Linked DNA regions of Homo sapiens: regions 1 and 2 are each linked to region 3. Evidence: fine-mapped expression QTL. A gene starts in region 3. Each other region holds a variant in brackets. All regions are shown on one strand. Distances are between the middles of the regions. Region 1 overlaps OTOF (otoferlin). Region 2 overlaps OTOF (otoferlin). Region 3 holds the start of OTOF (otoferlin).

Region 1 (7,100 bases), 65 kb after region 3:
GTCGCATTAGAAGAATGTGCCGGGCTCAGTGGCTCACGCCTGTAATTCCAGCACTTTGGGAAGCCAAGGCAGGTGGATCACGAGGGAGACTGAGACCATCCCGGCCAACATGGTGAAACCTCGTCTCTACTAAAAATACAAAAATTAGCCGTGCGGTGGCAGGCGCCTATAATCCCAGCTACTCGGGAGGCTGAGTCTGGAGAATAGCTTGAACCCGGGAGGTGGAGGTTGCAGTGAGCCTAGATCGTGCCACTGCACTCCAGCCGGGGCAACAGAGTGAGACTCTGTCTCAAAAAAAAAAAAAAAAAAAAAAAAAAAAAAAGAAGAATGTACAGAGGTCCATGCTTATTCTAGCTGGGGAAAGGCTTTTCTTGTTAAAACACACGTTTGAGAGAGGCAAGTGAATCAATCATTCTAAGTATCATGCACAAGCTCCCTACTTGAGAGATCAACCGCTTAGCTGAAGGGAGATTCTGTTGGGGTCACTCACATTTTGTAGAGCTTTCTGCTGTTTAGGATGCATTTTGACACACATGATCTCATTTAACCTGCATACAACCTTACAGGTAGCTGGTGTCTCTGCTTGTAACTGAAAAACACAAGGCTATGTGGTCATTTGCCCTCACACCTGGCAACATGTCAGGTCTGGGGTTCAATCCCAAGTTCAGCAACCCCCAGTACATGCCTCTGTCTATCTTAACATGGCCACCCTGACAGGAACTGACACCTCCAAATCCAAATGAGACCTGATGGCTTAAAATGAGGGTTCGGGAAAAGTAGTAGTGATGTCAAAAATTACTGGTGCTCTGGCTCTCTCTCTCTCTGTCTCTCTCTCTGTCCTTATATCTTTTTAGCTTAAAAAGCCAATAATTGGCTGGTCACAGTGGCTCGTGCCTGCATTCCCAGCACTTTGGGAGGCCAAGGCAGGCAGATCACCTGAGGTCAGGAGTTCAAGACCAGCCTGGCCAACATGGTAAAACCCAATCTCTACTAAAAAAAAAATACAAAAATTAGCCGGGCGGGGTGGCATATGCTTGTAATCCCAGCTACTTGGGAGGCTGGGGCAGAAGAATCGCTTGAACCCAGGAGGTGGAGGCTGCAGTGAGCTGAGATCATGCCACTGCACTCCAGGCCTGAGTGACAGAGAGAGACTCAGTGTGAAAAAAAAAAAAAAGCCATTAATCATTTGTGGTAAGCTCCACAAGGAAGAATTTGTTGCAATCCCACCTGTGCCTGGCTCCAGCAGGTTTCCAGGAAACATTTGTTGCATGAATGAACAACTGAAATAGGGCTTCCCAGGATATAAGTAAGATTGCAGAGCTGGACGCCACATAAAGGACACAGCAGAGTGCACACAACATACAATCAGTAGGCTGAAAAAGGCGGCTCAGGCAGGCACCAAAGCCGCACTGGCCATACAAACAAAGAAATTCAGCAAACAATGTGGAAAGGGGGGGGAGCCAAATTCCAGAAATGCAAAGACGTATCAGAGGCCTGCAGGCTTACATGAGAATTCCTGGAGCAGGAAATTAAATGCAAGTTAATGAAGACTTTGAAAGCTTTATTCCTGAGTGCATGAAACCTGTGACATGGGTTTGGCAGCTCTTTCTGAAGCAGAGCCATCGACGCTGGGGAAGAACGCAGGGCACTTGGCATCACCTAGGAGCTTTAAAAATACAGATTCCAGCCTGGGCACGGTGGCTCATGCCTGTAATTCCAGCACTTTGGGAGGCCGAGGCAGACAGATCACTTGAGGCCGGGAGTTTGAGAACAGCCTGGCCAACATGGCAAAACCCCATCTGTATAAAAAAGACAAAAATTAGCCCGGTGTGGTAGTGCATGCCTGTAATCCCAGCTACTCAGGAGGCTGAGGCAGAAGAATCACTTGAACCCAGGAGGCAGAGGGTTGCAGTGAGCCGAGATCATGCCACTGCACTCCAGCCTGGGCAACAGAGTAAGACTCCATCAAAAAAATAAAAATACAGATGCCTGAGCTGCATGTCCAGGATTGGATTGGATTGGTCTGGAGGTGGCCTGGGCATCAGTGTTTTTAATGCCTCTCCCTCCCTTCGGCCCAGCAAGTTAAGTCTAGTGAACACTGACTTAGAGGTTAGCCAACTCATACTCCTCTATAAATGAAGACACTTGAGGCATAGAAGGAGAAAGAGCCAGGATCACCCAGCAGATGAGAGGCAGTGGTCAGAATGGAGCCCAGGAGGCCAGTGCTGGCTCCCGGGCCCTCCCTCTGACCCTGCTGCCCCAGCCCCTGGACCCCTGCGGGACCAGGCTCCTAGGCTCAGGCAGCTTTCCTTCTGGCTCCCCCTTCTCCTGCCTGCAGGTCAGCATCACGGTGATCGAGGCCCGGCAGCTGGTGGGCTTGAACATGGACCCTGTGGTGTGCGTGGAGGTGGGTGACGACAAGAAGTACACATCCATGAAGGAGTCCACTAACTGCCCCTATTACAACGAGGTCAGTGGCCCTGTGGGGAAAGGAGCCTCTGTAAATATGGCAGGAGGGTGGCCCCAGCCCTCCCCAGGAGAAATAGGAGTGGCTGGAAGTCAAGGAGCACACAGGGCTACCAGCAGGGGTGATCCACCCTGTTACAACCCCCAGGACACTGACAAACAGAGCCACATCTTCTGAATCCTCTGAACCCCCCAGTCTAGAGCACAGGCCGACACTGGTCTTTGAAGCGTACACCACCCGGGTGCTCCTGGGCAGACCCCAGCAGTGCCTGTGAAAGAACCCCCCCCCACCCCACTCCCCAAGAGGCCTGGTTCCCACTGTTTCCCAGGCCAGAGCCCAAGGACAGGGCTGCCTCATTCCAACCCATGGTGGCACTGGCACCATTAGTAAGCACTTTCTACCAGCCAGGCATGCTCCTAAATGCTTCTGAACTGGACCATCCAAAGTTGTCACTATCAATTCCCTTTTACACAAGGGGACAGTGAGACTTCTGAAGGCAGACCTTGTCCAACCTCACAGTGCCAGCATCGCCCTTGGCGTGCTAGTGGGGTTCTGCCCTCTTGGCTCGGCTCCTTCATGGTTGCCTAAACTTCTGCGGGCTTCTCTCCAGAGCACTGGCCTTGATTTTAGGGTGTGAAAGAGAAAACATTTGGTACCCACTCCTATTCTTTCCAGCCATTTGAGGCCACATCAAGGGTGAGGGACCTCAGAGACCTTCTACTTTAATCTCCCCATCTTACAGAGGAGGATACTGAGGCCTCCATATGGAAGGGCCTTGCCCACAATCTCAGAGAGTGTTGCTGATAGAGCAGGGGCCAGGCTGCCCACCCAGCTTCCAGCCCAGGGCTCTGGCCACCATCACAAATATGGCACCTTGGTTCCCAGGCTCCAGATGGGACCCCATCATAATCAGCTCTGGGGAGGGATGTGAGAAATAGAGAAATACACTCACTCATCAAAACCCAAAGAATGACTTAGAGGCATGAAGAACAGCGAAAGTGAGACTTTTAATAACGGTCTTGCAAGATGGAGTGTCTGGTAGGCAGGCACCCCTGGGGCAGTCACAACAGGAATTTATCTCCTAGTGTGCAAGTCCCTCCCCCACTTCCCCATTGGTTGAGCACTATGGGGTTACAATCTTCCCTGACGTCGCCTAAGTTTCATTTTCCCCCTTACAAGGTTATACCCCGCTCCCCTTCGATTTCCCCACTTAAG[T/A]TTCGATTTCCCAATAACAAAACTTTCTTCCCTTTCATGGGCTGACCCCTCCTCTACATTCTGTTCGCTTATTGTGTCCTTCTAGGTGCATGAGCCGTGTGGTTTGTTGCATTCGCAGGTTGGATGCCAGTACTTAGACTTATCCTGCCTTGAAAATGGACCATTGAAAATGTTTTCTCACCAGGATGCCCAGGCCTTTCCCAGATGCCTGATCACACATCAGACTAACCCAGAAGCCACAGGCCTGGGCCCTGCCATCCCTTTCCTGGAGGGTTCCCCAGTCTGTTTCTCCTGGTGGCTCCAGGCAGTGAGGGGTGCCAGGCTGTCCCAAGTAAGGCAGCTGAGTCCCGTACCCTGAGGTGGGTGAGGGCTGAGGTGCCCCCTGTAGCTTGGGGGAGGGCATTTCTCAGGCAGCTCTGAGAGTCCTCAGACTGTGCACCTGCAGGAAGAAAACCCAGGCCCACCTCTGCCCTTCAGCCCAGGCCTGGCCGAACTCTCCTTTGTGACCACAAATTGACTCTGCTCTCCCAGCTGCTTTCCCACAGGCCCCCCGAGCTGGACAACCTGCTCAGGACCCCTCCAGCCCCAAGGACATTCAGGATTGACATCTCTGGCCTTACGTTAGGACACATCCTGACTGGACAAGTCTCCGCCTAGATAAGCATCTATGTCCCCAAGACAGGCATGGAGACAGGTCCCTGTGGCCCCGGTGGTTACTTGATAGCAGTGAAGCCACTTCTGCTAACTTAAGGGATCTCCCTCCACCAGGCCCACACACCTTGGCTTTCATTCAAATTACTTCCTCTTTCCCAAGGGCACAGAGCTGCTCTCCCTACTCTGTGGCTCCCCCAGAAAACTCCTACTCACCCGGCAGGGCCCAGCTCAAATGTTCTTGCTACTGAGCAGCCTTGCCTGCTCTGTCTGGGTCAGAGGTCAGCACTCCCCTTTCTCTGCAGTGTTAATGTCCTGGAGTTGAGGTTGGTCCTCCGTGTCTCTGTCCTGCTGGTGGACTGGAGGCTCCCAGTCTCCTGCCTCGCTATTTGTTCAGAGCCAGGCATGTACTCGGAGGGGTTCAGTAACACTCACCCAAAGGAAGACACAAACATCCACTGAGCATCTGCCGCACACCAGACAGTGGCACGTGGGGCAACATGGAGGCTGCCGAGATGAAGGAGGCACAGTTTCCGCCCTGCGCAGGTCCCCTCCTTGTTTCAGCCTAGAATCTTTCTAAATTCCCTATTTACTTCCTCTAAGACTGACTATTCATTCTGCTCATCTTTGGACAATCTTAAATGTGTTTCTGATCACATTTTTGTTCTTTTTCACAAACCCAAATAGCTCTGATTTTGTTTCTGTTTCCTCTAAACTAGGGTTTCTCAAACTCAGCACTATGGTATCTTGGACTGGATAATTGTGGTGGGATCGTCCTGTGCTGTGTAGGATGTGAGCAGCATCCCTGGCCTCTACCCAGTAGATGCCAATAGCAACTCCCCTTAGTTACAGCTACCAAGTTTCCAGACATGCCAAATGTCCCCTGAAATCGCCCTCAGTTGAGACCACCATTCTAAACTATCTTACTATGATTCCTTCCAGCCCCAAATCAGCCTTTCCAGCCCCAAAGCTTTGTTTCCCTTTTCTTCTCTTTCTATGCCACATTCCTTTTCAATGAAGGACATCCTCCTCGTCGTGGGAATGTATTATTTCTGACTAATTATCTGAGCTGGTAGGAACCTTCCTTTGGCTCCATTAAAACAACAGAGGGAGGTGGGAACAATCAACATGACTTAGGTATCTAAGCTATTACAAAAGGAAAATATGCTCAGGAAATAACAGGAATTTGATTGCAGACAGCTCAGAGAGTTCGGGATTCTGGCTCTAGCTCAGCTAGCTCGCTCCCCTGGGGCTGGCACATCTGCGGGCACCTGGCCTGATCACCCTGCCTGGCCCTGAGCCTGCCTGTGTGCAGGGAAGCTCAAAACCTTTGCCCTTCCGGAACAAGCTGGCCATTCACAAACCAGACTAAGGCTCCTTTCCTGTGTGTCCTGTGTGTGCATCTGGCCCCGCCCTGGGCATCTTGGGAGCGCCACCATCCTTCCTCCTGCTGAAAATCCACCTCTCCCCTTTGCCTTGGATCCTTCTCTTTCTACAGCTCAAAGAACCTGGCATTGCACAGCCCAACTCTGTCTTTGTTTTTCTTCCAGCCCCTTCTTCCTTGCCTATAAGGTGTTCTACTCCAGCATATGCTAAGTACAACCATGAAGACCCATGTGTGCTCAAGGACAGGAACTAGGAGTCTGTCACCTCTCTCTGGGCCTTTCCTCATTCCCACACACTTCTCCAGTGACCTCCTTTTTCCCTCCACCCCTCCACAGTCAGACCACTTGGGTTGTCCTCACTTCCTCCCCCCAGTCACCCCTCAATCTCTGCAGGGTTTCTGCCTCCAGATGTCATTGACACTGCTCTCCTCAAGGTCACCAAGGACATTGCTGTTCCTGAGTATAATGTCCATGTCATCCTCCTCTCCCTTGATCACCCAGTTTCTTTCATCCCGCTGCCTGCTGCTCCTCTTGGGGGCCCCTCACGCCACTCTCCTGCTTCCCCTGTCTCTCCAGCTCCATCTCCCCGGCCTAACTTCTTGGCTGAAAGGCTGTGTCTTCTTGGAGCCCTGACCTGGGCCTGCTTCCCCTCCCATGCTCTCCCCAGGTATCTCCTCCATCTCCAAGGTGTCAGTTACCATCTTGTGCTGACGATTCCCAAATCCATATCCCCACCCGCCTCCCCAGAGCTTCAGAACTCTGGCCAGCACACCCTGGGCCTGTTAGTGTCATGCACAGCTGTCGCTGCTTGCTATGTGCTTACCGTGGTGCACACCTGTGTTAAAGACTTGACCAGGGTGTCTCATTGCAACTTCACAACCACACCTTGAAGCCCCCCAAGTGAATGGCACCCCTGGAGCAGTTCAGCACGACAGCCCTGGATCATATCTCCACATTCATAGGATAATAGGTAAACTGAGGCTCAGGCAAGAAAGTGAGTGATCTAGCAGTAACAGCCAGGTGGGGCTGGCTCTGAAGCTGGCTTTACCCTCAGTGCTCAAGGGCCAGCCCCCAGCAGCCAGGAGCACGTTCTCTTCGGACATTTACCCCAAGCACATTGGAAATATTTCTCCCTTCTCCCCCACCACAGTTCACCAAAGCAGCAGCCCCTCTACTCACTGCCCCACACCCTCATCCTCAGCACCTGCACACCCAGGCCAGGGGAAGAGATGGGGACTGCAAATGTGCATGGCAGCCCACAGCACCAAAGGACAGTGCACACCCATGGCATTTCACATCGACTGCCAACTAAGTGCTTGGCACACCATGGTTCATCTGCTCTGAGGCTTGCGTTATTTTACAGTTTCACCTCTCTGAATTTG
Region 2 (5,652 bases), 81 kb after region 3:
GTTGGGGTGTGGGCTGCCTGGCCCCAAAGCCGGGTGGGATGCCCCCACCATCCACCCCCACGGCCTGTCTGTGAGACGGAAGGAGGCCTGGCCCCCGACCTGCCACCCTTACTCAAGCTCAGGAACGCTTTGAACTGCCTCCCCACAGAGCTGTGCAGGTAAAATGGAAGAATTCTTTCTCTTTGGAGCCTTCCTGGAGGCCTCAATGATCGACCGGAGAAACGGAGACAAGCCCATCACCTTTGAGGTCACCATAGGTGAGTGCTGGGCCCACGGGGGCTTCGGGCCTAGGTGAGTGCTGGGCCCACGGGGGCTTCAGGCCTAGGCTGCAGGTGGTAAGTGTGAGGCTCTGCACCTCAGCCCTGTCCTCACTCTTGTAGGGAACGTTGACCCCTTTCCCCTGAGAGGCCTCAAGCACCCACAAAACACCTTTGTGTGTGCATGGGGTGGACCACGCCCCATAAAGGGGCCAACCCTCAGCTCCACCTACAGGGTGAGGCTGTGTTTGGGACCTGGGGCAGAGGGCAGGGAGAAGCCCTTCCCGGGGCTGGAGAGGAGAGAGTGGGAACTCAGGCCACAGCCTGGGCCAGGGCTGGGCCTCGCACTCAGGCGTCATGAGGACTCCCTGACTCTCAGCGGAGTGGGGACACGGGCTAATGCTCTCTGGCTAATGATGTGTCACGTCTGAGCCCCATTCCCTGACTCTCCCTCTCCCCTTTCCCAAACCCAAGGCAGCACCGGATTGGACGGTGGGAGGGGCCTGGTGGGGAATGCACTCTAGGCCTTCTGGGCCCATTCTGCTCCAGGCAACTATGGGAACGAAGTTGATGGCCTGTCCCGGCCCCAGCGGCCTCGGCCCCGGAAGGAGCCGGGGGATGAGGAAGAAGTAGACCTGATTCAGAACGCAAGTGATGACGAGGCCGGTGATGCCGGGGACCTGGCCTCAGTCTCCTCCACTCCACCAATGCGGCCCCAGGTCACCGACAGGTGGGCCCAGCCTCCCATCCTCCTGTGGCCTGGCCCTCCCACCTCCCTGGGCCCCCAAGACCTCACCTCCCGCCTCTGCCCACCCCAGGAACTACTTCCATCTGCCCTACCTGGAGCGAAAGCCCTGCATCTACATCAAGAGCTGGTGGCCGGACCAGCGCCGCCGCCTCTACAATGCCAACATCATGGACCACATTGCCGACAAGCTGGTCAGGGCCAGGCCAGGGGCCAGCAGGGGTGGGGTCCTGGGGGAGACGGCGCTGTCAGAGGGCCTTCCCTGGAACACACAAAGCTGGTCTGCCCAGGGGGCTGCAGGAACGGCCCCAGCAGGACCTCTGTTCCCATTCTCAGCCCCAGGTCCCAGGGCACAGACAAGGACAGGAGCCACCTCTAGTCACTCAGCCTCCAGTGAATCCTGGGGCAGGAGTGTTGGGTTCCCTGATTTTTCCAGAAATCTTAAAAGCAAGGCTAGGGAGACAGGTGTGGTGGCTCACGCCTGTAATCCCAACACTTTGGGAGGCCAAGGCAGGTGGATCACCTGAGGTCAGGAGTTCGAGACCATCCTGGCCAACATAGTGAAATGCCGTCTCTACTAAAAATGCAAAAATTAGCGGGGCTTGGTGGCGGGCACCTGTAATCCCAGCTATTCGGGAGGCTGAAGCAGGAGAATCGCTTGAACCCGTGAGGCGGAGTTTGCAGTGAGCCAAGATGGCGCCACTGCACTCCAGCCTGGGCAACCGAGCAAAACTTCATCTCAAAAAATAAAATAAAATAAAATAAAACAAAATAAAAAAGCAAGGCTAGGGAAGGGAAATGGGGAAAAGGGAGAAGCGAGCAGTGTCTGAAGCTCAGGAGCTGCCCCCTCCTCCTCTGCCCACCCCTCTCCCCCCATGAGCCATGGGCACTGACTGGGCGAGGAGTGCAGCTGTTGGCATGAGACCTCCTTCTCCCCAGCCTGGGGAAGCAGGGACCAGCAGATAATCCCGCCCTTCCCTGAGCTGTTGCTGTTCCCTGTTGAAGTTCCCTGAAGCTCAGCCAGCTCATATTTTATAAAAATGAATTAAAACCTCCAAAAAAATCAAGGCTAATATGAGGTCTGCTCCCAGCCCCCTGCCAATGTCCTCCTTGTCATCCCTGTCTTGTGACTATAACCACAATTAAAGCCCATAGCCTTTGCAGTGTGACCTGGGTCTGCAGTTATCTGCAAGGCTTCCCCCTAAGGAGCTGGGGTACAAGCTGACCTGTGTTTCCTGTGGGACCTGGGTCTCACAGCCCTCCCAGTGCTCTCAGAGCCAGAGCCACTCCCTCTTCCCCCAGGCATCTGTTCCCATCCCCTGCCACAGGCTCCAGCATTCTGGAGTGACGTCAGGATCTTGGCACATCCAGTCCTAGGGTTTCCCTCTGTCTCTGGCCAGCCCTGAGCCCCGTAGCCGTGAGTTCTGCCCAGGCCCTGTGAGCTCACCAGAGCCACAGACTCACAGCCCAGAGGTGGCTTCTTCCTTCAGGAACTGAAGAACCCCCATGAACACCAACATCTCCAGGTTCTGAGAACAGAACCTGGGAAATTGATGACTTCCTCATGATGACCGATACTCAGGATGGCCCTAGCGAGAGCTCCCAGATCATGAGGTCCCTCACTCCCCTGATCAACAGGGAGGAGGCATTTGGGGAGGCTGGGGAGGCGGGGCTGTGGCCCAGCATCACCCACACTCCTGATTCACAGGAAGAAGGCCTGAACGACATACAGGAGATGATCAAAACGGAGAAGTCCTACCCTGAGCGTCGCCTGCGGGGCGTCCTGGAGGAGCTGAGCTGTGGCTGCTGGTGAGAAGGGAGGGGCGGCAGGTGGGGGGAGGATGAGGCGGAACTGGACAAAGGGGACCCTGCCAGGGCTGGGCAGATGAGGAAGAATCTACAGAGCCCCTGCTGGTCAGGCTCGCTAAACCCCGGCTCGCCCTACCCCCAGCCGCTTCCTCTCCCTCGCTGACAAGGACCAGGGCCACTCATCCCGCACCAGGCTTGACCGGGAGCGCCTCAAGTCCTGCATGAGGGAGCTGGTGAGGACGCAACTGGACGGCGGGGGCTGGAGGGA[G/A]GGCCTGGTTGTGAGAAGGTGTCACAACCCCCTTTGTCATGGCCCGAGCTGTCCCCCAGTTGCTGGGTTCACTGACACCCCCTCCTTCGCAGGAAAACATGGGGCAGCAGGCCAGGATGCTGCGGGCCCAGGTGAAGCGGCACACGGTGCGGGACAAGCTGAGGCTGTGCCAGAACTTCCTGCAGAAGCTGCGCTTCCTGGCGGACGAGGTGCGGCCCAAGGGGTCGGGGCTTTGCCTCATCCAGGGCTGGCTCTCTGGGGCCCCTCAGGATCAGGGGGCTCAATCAGGAGGCTAGACCCCCTTACCCACTGCCCCTGGCCACCCCCCAACCCCCAGCCCCAGCACAGCATTCCCGACATCTTCATCTGGATGATGAGCAACAACAAGCGTGTCGCCTATGCCCGTGTGCCCTCCAAGGACCTGCTCTTCTCCATCGTGGAGGAGGAGACTGGCAAGGACTGCGCCAAGGTCAAGACGCTCTTCCTTAAGGTGCTGGAGGGGGCAGGATGGATGGGGGCCTGGGTCCTTTCAGGGGAGCAGCAGCCCCCACCTGGGGCTGGAAGCCTGAGTGACAGGGTGGGGCCTTCAAGCAGCAGGTGCTCAGAGAAGAGCCAAGAATGGGAAGGACGTGGGGGAAGGGGTGGGGAAGGAGGTGGGGGAAGGGGTGGGGGAAGGGGTGGGGAAGGAGGTGGGGGAAGGGGTGGGGGAAGGGGTGGGGGAAGGGGTGGGGAAGGAGGTGGGGGAAGGGGTGGGGGAAGGGGTGGGGAAGGAGGTGGGGGAAGGGGTGAGGGAAGGGGTGGGGGAAGGGGTGGGGAAGGAGGTGGGGGAAGGGGTGGGGAAGGAGGTGGGGGAAGGGGTGGGGAAGGAGGTGGGGGAAGGGGTGGGGAAGGGGGCATGACGGCCCCCTGCCCATCCTCCTGCCTCCACCGGACCCCAGCCCAGCGGGATGGCTGTGAAGGGGCAGGGCAGCTCTGACCAGGGCCTCTGCCGGCCCCTGCCCCTTCCCCACCTCTTGGGCCCTGGCAGCCGTCAGGCTCCTGGTGACCCCATGCCCACCCCCAGCTGCCAGGGAAGCGGGGCTTCGGCTCGGCAGGCTGGACAGTGCAGGCCAAGGTGGAGCTGTACCTGTGGCTGGGCCTCAGCAAACAGCGCAAGGAGTTCCTGTGCGGCCTGCCCTGTGGCTTCCAGGAGGTCAAGGCAGCCCAGGGCCTGGGCCTGCATGCCTTCCCACCCGTCAGCCTGGTCTACACCAGTGAGTGAGGACCCCTCACTCGAAGCCTCACCTGGGAGGGGGCCGGAGGGGCTGCCCATCCTGGAACCTCAGGCTGCCCTTCCCCACAGAGAAGCAGGCGTTCCAGCTCCGAGCGCACATGTACCAGGCCCGCAGCCTCTTTGCCGCCGACAGCAGCGGACTCTCAGACCCCTTTGCCCGCGTCTTCTTCATCAATCAGAGTCAGTGCACAGAGGTGAGGGCCTGGGAGGAGGGAGTGGCTCTGGCTTTGAGAGCACCAGAAGCCTGTGAGCCTGTGGGGACTGGAGCCTGTGGGGCCTGTGAGCCTGTGGGGCCTGGAGCCACAGGTCAGCCAGTGCCCCGGTTTCTCAGGGGAAGCCCTGCAGATAACTGCAGCAGACGCGGGTCACACTGGAAAGGCTACGGGCTTTAGCTGTGGTTATATTCACAAGACAGGGACGACAAGGAGGACATTGGCAGGGGGCTTGGGCCAAACCTCATATTAGCCTTGATTTTAAGATTTCTGGAAGAATCAAGACACCTGTCACTCCTGCCCCCAGGTTCCGTGGAAGCTGAGTGAGTAGGGGTGGCTTCTGTTTGTGCATCTGCCCCCCCCTCTGTCACTTGTCCCCTGTCTCCCCATCCCATGCTGCAGGTGCTGAATGAGACCCTGTGTCCCACCTGGGACCAGATGCTGGTGTTCGACAACCTGGAGCTCTATGGTGAAGCTCATGAGCTGAGGGACGATCCGCCCATCATTGTCATTGAAATCTATGACCAGGATTCCATGGTATGGGTGGGCTCTGGTGCCAGGGACCCCAGCAGCACCACACCTGGCCCTTGTTCCCTGCACTCCACCTGCGCTGAGGCTGTGCCCTCACCTCCGCCACCCACCTGCAGAGCTCCTTGGCCAGGTGCTGGCTGGGAAGCTGGGAGTGGGGGCTGACATCTAGCTCCTCCTGCCTGCTTGCGGCAGCCTGACCCCTTCCCAGGCCAGCACATCCTCACCTCCTGTCTCCTACAGACTGAGCCCTGGAGGTGTGCCAGCAAGTCCTGCTGTCACTAGCCTCCCCACCCCAGGGCTCCCCGACCCCTGCCCTCACCTACCACAACCAGTAACAGCCTTGCCATCCTCCGTGGAGGTTCTGGAGCAGGGAGTAAGGGATTGGGGTGACCCCCGAGAGTTAGCGAGCCACCTTCTCACATACCACCTCAGCTGCTGAGGTGCCCAGATAGCCCTGGACTAGAGGTAGGAGGACCTCATGTCTAGTCCTGAGCCGGGCATCTGCCATTTACTGACTGCTTGGCCTTGAACAAGTCTTTGGTGGGCCCTGAGACTTG
Region 3 (7,100 bases):
GACGCTGTGTGTAATTGTGTGTGTGCGTGCGTGCGTGCATGTGTGCGTGTGTGTGTGCGCGCCTTGCGAAGAGGAGCATTTTTCATTTTTCTTCTTAATCTCTAGCTGATGGCTTCCTTCTCACCTCATCATACCTGTAAACTACTCCACAAGAGGCAAAAAGAAAATCATAGAACGTCTGGGTGTGTGATTTACATTTGTCCCCAATGCTGCCGTTCATTTTGGGGATGGCATCCGCAGGGGTAGCGCTTGCCCCAGAGAGCAGGCCTGCTGAAGGCCCACCCCCTGTGTAATCCTCCCTGTGACTGCTTCAGCCTCCACATTTGAGTTTCTCCAGGGACCCTTACACCAGCCTTGGTGCCTAGGGCAGGCACAGGGCCTTCGGCTTTTCCATAAGGGGTGAGGGTATGGGGACAGCTTCCACGGTGCCAGGCTCTTGGTGACTCGGGTGGAGGCCCTGCCACCCCAGCTCCCTCTGCAGCAGTCCTGGTGTCATGAAGAAGCCTGGCAGTTCCCACTTTGTCTCCAGGTCTTGCTTCTTCCCTTCAGATGCCGGATGGAGAGCAGTGCTCCCCTCGCACTTCGGTTCTGTAAATGGCAGTGGATGAAGACCGCAGACGCTACTGGGTTCACAGAATGTGGCTGCCACCAGCATTCTCCAAAGACTTCCCCTGGCAAATGCCAATGAAATGAAGGGGAGCCACAGGCTTCCCAGAGGCTCAGGAAGCAGAAACACTGAGGCCTGGTTGGAAAGAGAGCTGTAGGCAAAGGAACGGCTGCAAACAAACTGGGTGGAAGGAAAATCCATCCATCCTTCAGAATGCAGTCATGTCTGTATTTTTCTAAATTCTCATTGGGGAACATGTTCTACAATAAGGAAAACATGAGTCAAAGACCCCCAGCCCTGGTGAGGTTGACCGCCTACTTCCTCCCCCATTCAGGGCTGCCCAGCCAGTCCTGCTGGTAAACCCACCACCCTGCCTTCCACCTGCCTGTGTTCTAGTCCATCTGTCTCGTCTGATTGGGATCCTGTGCCATCCATATCATATTCATCCCTGAATCTCAGCACCTGGCTCTGGAAAGAATTCAGTAAATGTTCATTACATAAATTATATACTCAGTTACCAAAATGGGTAACAGAAGAATGGAAATTAAAAAGTGGGTTCTGGCTGGGAACGGTGGCTCATGCCTGTAATCCCAGCATTTTGGAAGGCCGAGGCAGGCGGATCACTTGAGGTCAGCAGTTTGAGACCAGCCTAGCCAACATGGTGAAACCCCATCTCTACTAAAAATACAAACATTAGCTGGGCATGGTAGCACATGCTTATAGTCTGACCTATTTGGGAGGCTGAGGCAGGAGAATCGCTTGAACCCGGGAGGCAGAGGTTGCAGTGAGCCTAGATCACTCCACTGCCCTCCAGCCTGGGTGACAGAGTGAGACTCTCTCTCAAAAAAAAAAAAAAAAAAAGAGTGGGATCTGTCTCTTAGGTTTTCAGAAAGGCCAGCTGACTCCATTGAGAGCTGCTGAGTGGAATTGCTACCATTTTATGGATGTGGAAAGTGAGATTCAGCATAGATCAATGCCTTGGCTAGGGCAGGATCATGGGCTTTTTCCTAAAGATGCACAGGGTCTATAAGAGGCCTCATGAAATTCACTCCTTTCAGGGGAGGACCTCCAGAGAACCAAGGAAGAAGATATTTTCTGTTGTTGTTGTTGTACCTTGTAGTCACCAAGCCTTAAAAACACAGATCACCTGATGACCTCATGGATGGAAAATGCTAGTGAATTTAGGTGTTTTTTTTTTTAAGACATTAAACTTATCTAGCTTTTGAAAATTTAGCATTCATACTTGTATTCAATAAACAGAATACTCTAAGACATTTTTAAATTCAATATGATTAGATAAATGTGAGAAAGGTAAGCAAGAATTGGTTAGGAAAAAGTGCAAAGGAAAAAAACGTAAGTAGAAAAAGAAAAATAGGGCACAGTAGCAAGGAAATATCTAGAAGGAGGAAAGAAGGCTCTTGGGACATACTGTAGGTTATTTGGAATGCAGAATTCAAAAGAAGTAACCTCTTGTTACCATGCTGTGAAAAATTAGTATTTCTCTTTTTAACCTTTAGACTCTGTTTCAGGTAGATCCCTGAGCTCACTCTTTTATCCTTTCAACAGTAATTGGGCATCCTACGGTGCACAGGATACCATGTGGGGCTCTGGGGTAGAGGGATGCTGTGCTCCAGGGCCCTCCTGAGGTCAGGAGGGGAAAAGGCAAGGGAAGCAGCCCCAGGACTCAGTAAGATGAGAGGAGGCAGGAGCAGCACAGAGGAGGACCCCAACCCAGCTGGGGTGCGGGTACAGAGGCACCTCCAGGAGCAGGCACTCAAGCTGAGTCCAGGGTGGGGTGGAGGGCATTCCACCAAGAATGAATAGCAAGAACAAGGCTGCAGATGACCCTGCACAGATTCCAGCATCAGGGATTCTGGCCCCCAGCGTCCCTTTCCTTGGTGTATGCTGCTGGAAGACAGGAGGGGGCAGTTCTCTTTTGGTCCTTAGAAATTTCCCTATAGACATCCCTTCTCCTGCCCCTAGCAGCTTATAACAGCAGAAGGCCATTCAATTCTGCTCCTCTGGCTGGAAAGCAAACATCAGCCTGGCTTACCTTCGCTAGCCTGCCTGACCCCCAGCCTTGGGGTGGGGCTAGGTTAGTGCCCTGGATCCTTAAACATGGCCCCTGGTAGCACATAAGCCTCTGCTGCCTCCACAACCAGCCATCTCCATCATGCATGGCCTGGTCCTGAGCCTCCCCTCAGGCAGCAGCCCCAGCCTCTCTGCTTCCTGAGATTCAGAAACAGGGATCCCAGGGCAGGGCTCAGGGCCCAGCCTCTTGGGGGCACAGTCTCCAGCAGGGAAGAGGTGGGCGTAGGTGGACAAATACATTCCCTTCTTCTTGTAGTGTGCCCCTGTGGGTGGGAGTGCCCCCCGCCCCACATCCACCCTACCTATGCTCATGCCCACTCCTCTGTGCCCACTACTGGTGGCAGGGCTTGCTTAGCAGGGAAGCAGCAGAGCCCTGCAGAGGGGTGGGCAGAGCCTCCCTTCCAGGAGCTGGGAGAAGACACCTGAAGCTGGACAGAGCTTTATCTGGGAGCCGGCGGCTGCTGAATAATGAATTCCAACTCTGCCGCACTCCCAGGCTGCACATTGGGTGCACACACACACACACACACACGCACACACCGATACACACACGCTGGGCTGACAACTTGGAGGGGCGGGGGCTGTGAGGCTCTGTGAGTCGCTGCAGGAGCAGCTTAGCTCGGCTTGGTTGCCTTGGTCTCTGTGGGCAGCATCGGAGGGGGGTCGGGAGGAGGAGGAGGAGGCAGCGGCAGAGAAGAGAGAGGCGTGTGAGCCGTGCTCCACCGGCTAGCTCCTTCCCGCTGCTCCTGCCTGGCAGTGCCAGGCAGCCCACACCAGCATGGCCTTGCTCATCCACCTCAAGACAGTCTCGGAGCTGCGGGGCAGGGGCGACCGGATCGCCAAAGTGACTTTCCGAGGTAGGGAAGCCGCTGTCTCAGAGGGACGCCAGCTCTGAGAGCTGGACCAGCCCATGCTCTGGAGGTGGCCGGGGATAGGACAGGGCTGGGAGGATGGGTGGGAAAAGTTCTAGCAGGGGCTGGGGCGACGAGCCTTTTCACAGGTAGTCATCTGCCTGGGACTGACTGGCCATTGTGATTTCTGGAAAATCAGGGTCCCCTGTTCTTCCATGCCTGTGTCTCCTTGTGCTTGCCAACATGCCAGTTCCCCGGGCAGGGCACAGAGCCCTCTGCCTGGGGAGGCAGAAGTGAGGACCACATCCCTGAGCTCAGGGAGACCCAGGACCCCCTCCTTCTCTCTCTCTCCCTCTCCTGCAGGTTGATTTCCTTGAGCACAGGGTGGGGGCCGGGTATGGAGCCTGGGGCACCCAGGGTGACTGGGAGAAACCAGGCAGCCAGTAGCTCCCTGGGCCCCAGAGTGATGGGGGACACTGTTGGCTTCTTTTAGATCTATTCATGGGCGGGAACCCCGGGAGCCCCTCGCCTCTCTTCTGTCTGGTCTTTTCTCATCCTTTTCACTCCTGTATTCAGCGACCATTTATTATGATCTACTGTGTCCCAAGGATAGGGGTAGAAACACAGAGCTGAGCACAACCCAGCCCCAGCCCCAAGGAGCCTGCATCTGTTGGGCAGGCGTGGAACAAGCAGGACAGGTATGTGAGACAGAAGGTGGGGGTGCAGCATGCAAGCTACAGAAGCAGCACCCTCACCCAGGCTGGTGACCGGTGGTCAGGGAAGGCTTCCCGGAGGAAGTAACACTCAGCTAATACCCGAAGGACCAGCGGGTGGGAGCTAGGAGAGGAGGTAAGGACTGAGGAGGCAGAGGAAACAGTGTGCCCAGAGCTGAGAGAGGAGCTGAAACTCTGGAACTGAAAGAGGTTCCATGTGTCTACAGCTCAGAGAGGGTGCAGGAGCGGAGGCCAGAGAGCCAAGCAGGGCAAGGAGGCGAGGCTGGACCTGACCCCGGGGACAGCGGAGCCCCTGAGCATTTTAAGTGGGGAAAGGCAGGGCCAGGCTGACTCTGTCCTTCACCACCCACCTCTGCCTCTCCATGTGGTTGCTGCCCAGCCCTGAGGGTTGGGGGTACTTCTCACTAGACATGGCCCCTTCTCCCGAGAGAGGGGTCTGAGAGTGGGATGGGGACGAGGTGGTGAGAAGGGGGCAGAGAGGACCCCCCTATACTAAAGAGCAAAGTGAGCCTTGGGGCCCAGGCTGGACACAGTGTCTGCACCTCTGTTGGAAGGGATGGGAGAGACCATTGGCAGAACATTCCAGCAAGAGCCCTGGGGCACCCACATCACCTACCCAGAGGCCCTGGGATGCCCACATTGCAGCTTGTGTTCATAGGGACAGGCAGGGGTGGAGGTGATGGCAGTGGCCCTGCCGGCAGGCGGAGGTTAGGCAGGAGGGAGAGGGAGGTGTGGGCTGGGCTGCCTTTTGCCTCCCACCCCAACCCACTGACTGCTTTCTCTGCAGCACCCTGGATCTCCCTCTGTGTGCCACCTGCAGGCTCATGCTGGCTTTAGAAAAAGCAAATGTGTCCTTTCATCTGTGAAATGTGGCCCTGAGCTCCACGGGCAGCATAGTGTGGGGCGGTTAAGCTACAGGTTGCCATCCTGCTGCAGCTGTGCTGGAACGGTCCAGGCTGCACCGGACAGGCCCACTTGCAGGCCGAGAAACCAAGGTTCAGGGGTAGAACACTGCGCGTGGCATTCACGGAGGAGCTGAGGCACGGTGGTCCCAGCTCTCAGGACCTCATCCTGAGTACTCAATCTTGCAAGCTCTTTATCTGCTCCTGGGCCACCTGGGGGCCAGCACCTTGTCTGACACCCATCTTCTCCTTGGAGCAGTGAAGGGCTGGGCCTTTAGCCTCACTGACCACACAGGAATTAGTTTATTTGCAACCCTTGCTCTCTGGACTGAGTGGAGAAATCGCTTCCAAGCTCCACATTGGCAGGAGGTGGCCATGGGCAGAGCTCCTGGGGAAGGGGGCTGGGCAGCAGGAATAGGCAGATGACAAGCAGTTTCCAGAAAGTACCTTTATTACAACGAAAGATGCCTCAGCCGCTCACCTGTGTCATCTAGCAGTTCACAGTTGTAGGCGCCCCAAAAGACCAACACTGACCACAATTCAGAGGGAATGGACCCGCTCTACAATGTTCCTTAGCATCTCCCAGCACATGCAACCACTGGGGGCCAAGCAAGTCCTCTGCAGGGGGAAACAAGAAACTGGTAAACACGCAGAGGGAGACACTGGCCCCAGGCTCCCCAAGGCTTTTGAGTGAAAGTCAATGCCGGGGGAGGTGGTGAGGGAGCCCTTGGTGAGCTGTGCCCATTGGCAGTGGCCCTAGGTAGGCCAGAGCAGCTGGTTGAAATATGGCTTGACCTTCTGTGCTGTGCCATCCAAGACACTAAGGAAAGAGCCCTCCTGGGCTATTGTGGAAAAAGTTCTGGATATGGAGTCAGAAGCCCTAGATCCTACCTGGGTTCTGCCACTCACCCTCAGTTTCCTCATCTGTAAAATGGGCATGATAATAACACTCACTTCACTAGATTGCTTCAGGGAAACCATAGGTATGGAAGAGTTTGTGGGAAGAGTATTCAAATGGTCGATGTGTTTGTGAGGCAGCCATTCCCATTCTCCTTGGGAGCAGCTGCTGGCCCCTGAGGTATCTTCTCTCCAGACCAGCAGAGGGCCCCATGTGAGATATAAAGGGAAGAGGAGAGCACGTCTAAGGGGTTCCAGTCTGCCAGGAGAAGGCAGAGAGCCTGGACTCTGCTCTGTAGGAGCCTCTGCTGAGATGTTCCGCAGGAACCCAGGCAGGCAGACCCCCGAGACTCCTGTTCTCATCTGGCTGGGTGTGCACCAGCTTTGCCCGTGGCCACCTCTTTTCCCACTGCCCTCAGGCCAGTCGGCCCCTCGGTCAGTGCTCCCAGCCAGTTCTGTATCTAGCTCTTAGTTCTTACTGCCCCTGGCTGCTCCTAAGCTGGTGCTGCCCTGTTCATGCATTTCCTGAACATGCTAATATTTGTGCACAGGCCTGGGACCCTGAGGTGAAGGGGCCAGCCTGGCCCTCCAGGAGTCACAATCCCATTGGGTCAGACAGGAGATAGGGAGTCCTGGGCGAATCTCTATTGTGCCTGCAGGCCACAGGGCTCAGCTGGGTTTCTCATTAACAAAATGGAGACAGTGGTCCTCATTTAGCTCAGAGGCCTGCAGTTCCCAGGAGTAATCAAGAGTGGGCTATCTAAGAAGGAGCCATCTTGACCACAGGTTGCTACTCAAAGAGAGGAAGTATTAGCTTCAGGTATTTCCTTTATCAACTCCTGAGATAGTTCCCTACATCAATCACAGAGCCACAGAACGCAGGGTGTGAAGGGTCCCGAAGTTCTTCTAGTCCAACCTTCTGTCCAGTGCTGAGCACCAAGGCTGGGGGACCTGGACTGTAAGGGAACCAAGTGACAGACAGTCCAGGGCCAACCCTGATGTCTCCCTTCTCTTTCTA

The links. PIP is the estimated chance that this variant, and not a neighbour inherited with it, causes the effect.
Region 1: its variant is fine-mapped to the expression of OTOF in whole blood (TOPMed, PIP above 0.99). The same link has a PIP of 0.9 or more in blood mononuclear cells, lung, monocytes and monocytes after R848.
Region 2: its variant is fine-mapped to the expression of OTOF in whole blood (TOPMed, PIP above 0.99). The same link has a PIP of 0.9 or more in T cells and blood mononuclear cells.

What each region holds. Positions count from the first base shown.
Region 1 is chr2:26,490,312-26,497,411 of GRCh38, reverse strand. OTOF (otoferlin) reads left to right here. Exons shown (of 47, transcript NM_194248.3): 9 at 2,339-2,470. Among named protein-coding and RNA genes, the nearest start is that of OTOF, 65 kb to the left of the region's middle. RefSeq lists an enhancer at 3,617-3,766. The variant T/A (reference allele first, on the strand shown) is at 3,683.
Region 2 is chr2:26,474,808-26,480,459 of GRCh38, reverse strand. It overlaps OTOF (otoferlin), which reads left to right. Exons shown (of 47, transcript NM_194248.3): 16 at 149-257; 17 at 807-987; 18 at 1,076-1,196; 19 at 2,711-2,811; 20 at 2,954-3,044; 21 at 3,172-3,288; 22 at 3,417-3,569; 23 at 4,143-4,332; 24 at 4,422-4,546; 25 at 4,967-5,101. Among named protein-coding and RNA genes, the nearest start is that of DRC1, 76 kb to the right of the region's middle. RefSeq lists enhancers at 1-2, 2,712-2,901. The variant G/A (reference allele first, on the strand shown) is at 3,080.
Region 3 is chr2:26,554,948-26,562,047 of GRCh38, reverse strand. It overlaps OTOF (otoferlin), which reads left to right and starts at 3,292. Exons shown (of 47, transcript NM_194248.3): 1 at 3,292-3,555. The coding sequence starts at 3,477. RefSeq lists enhancers at 2,345-3,137, 3,138-3,931.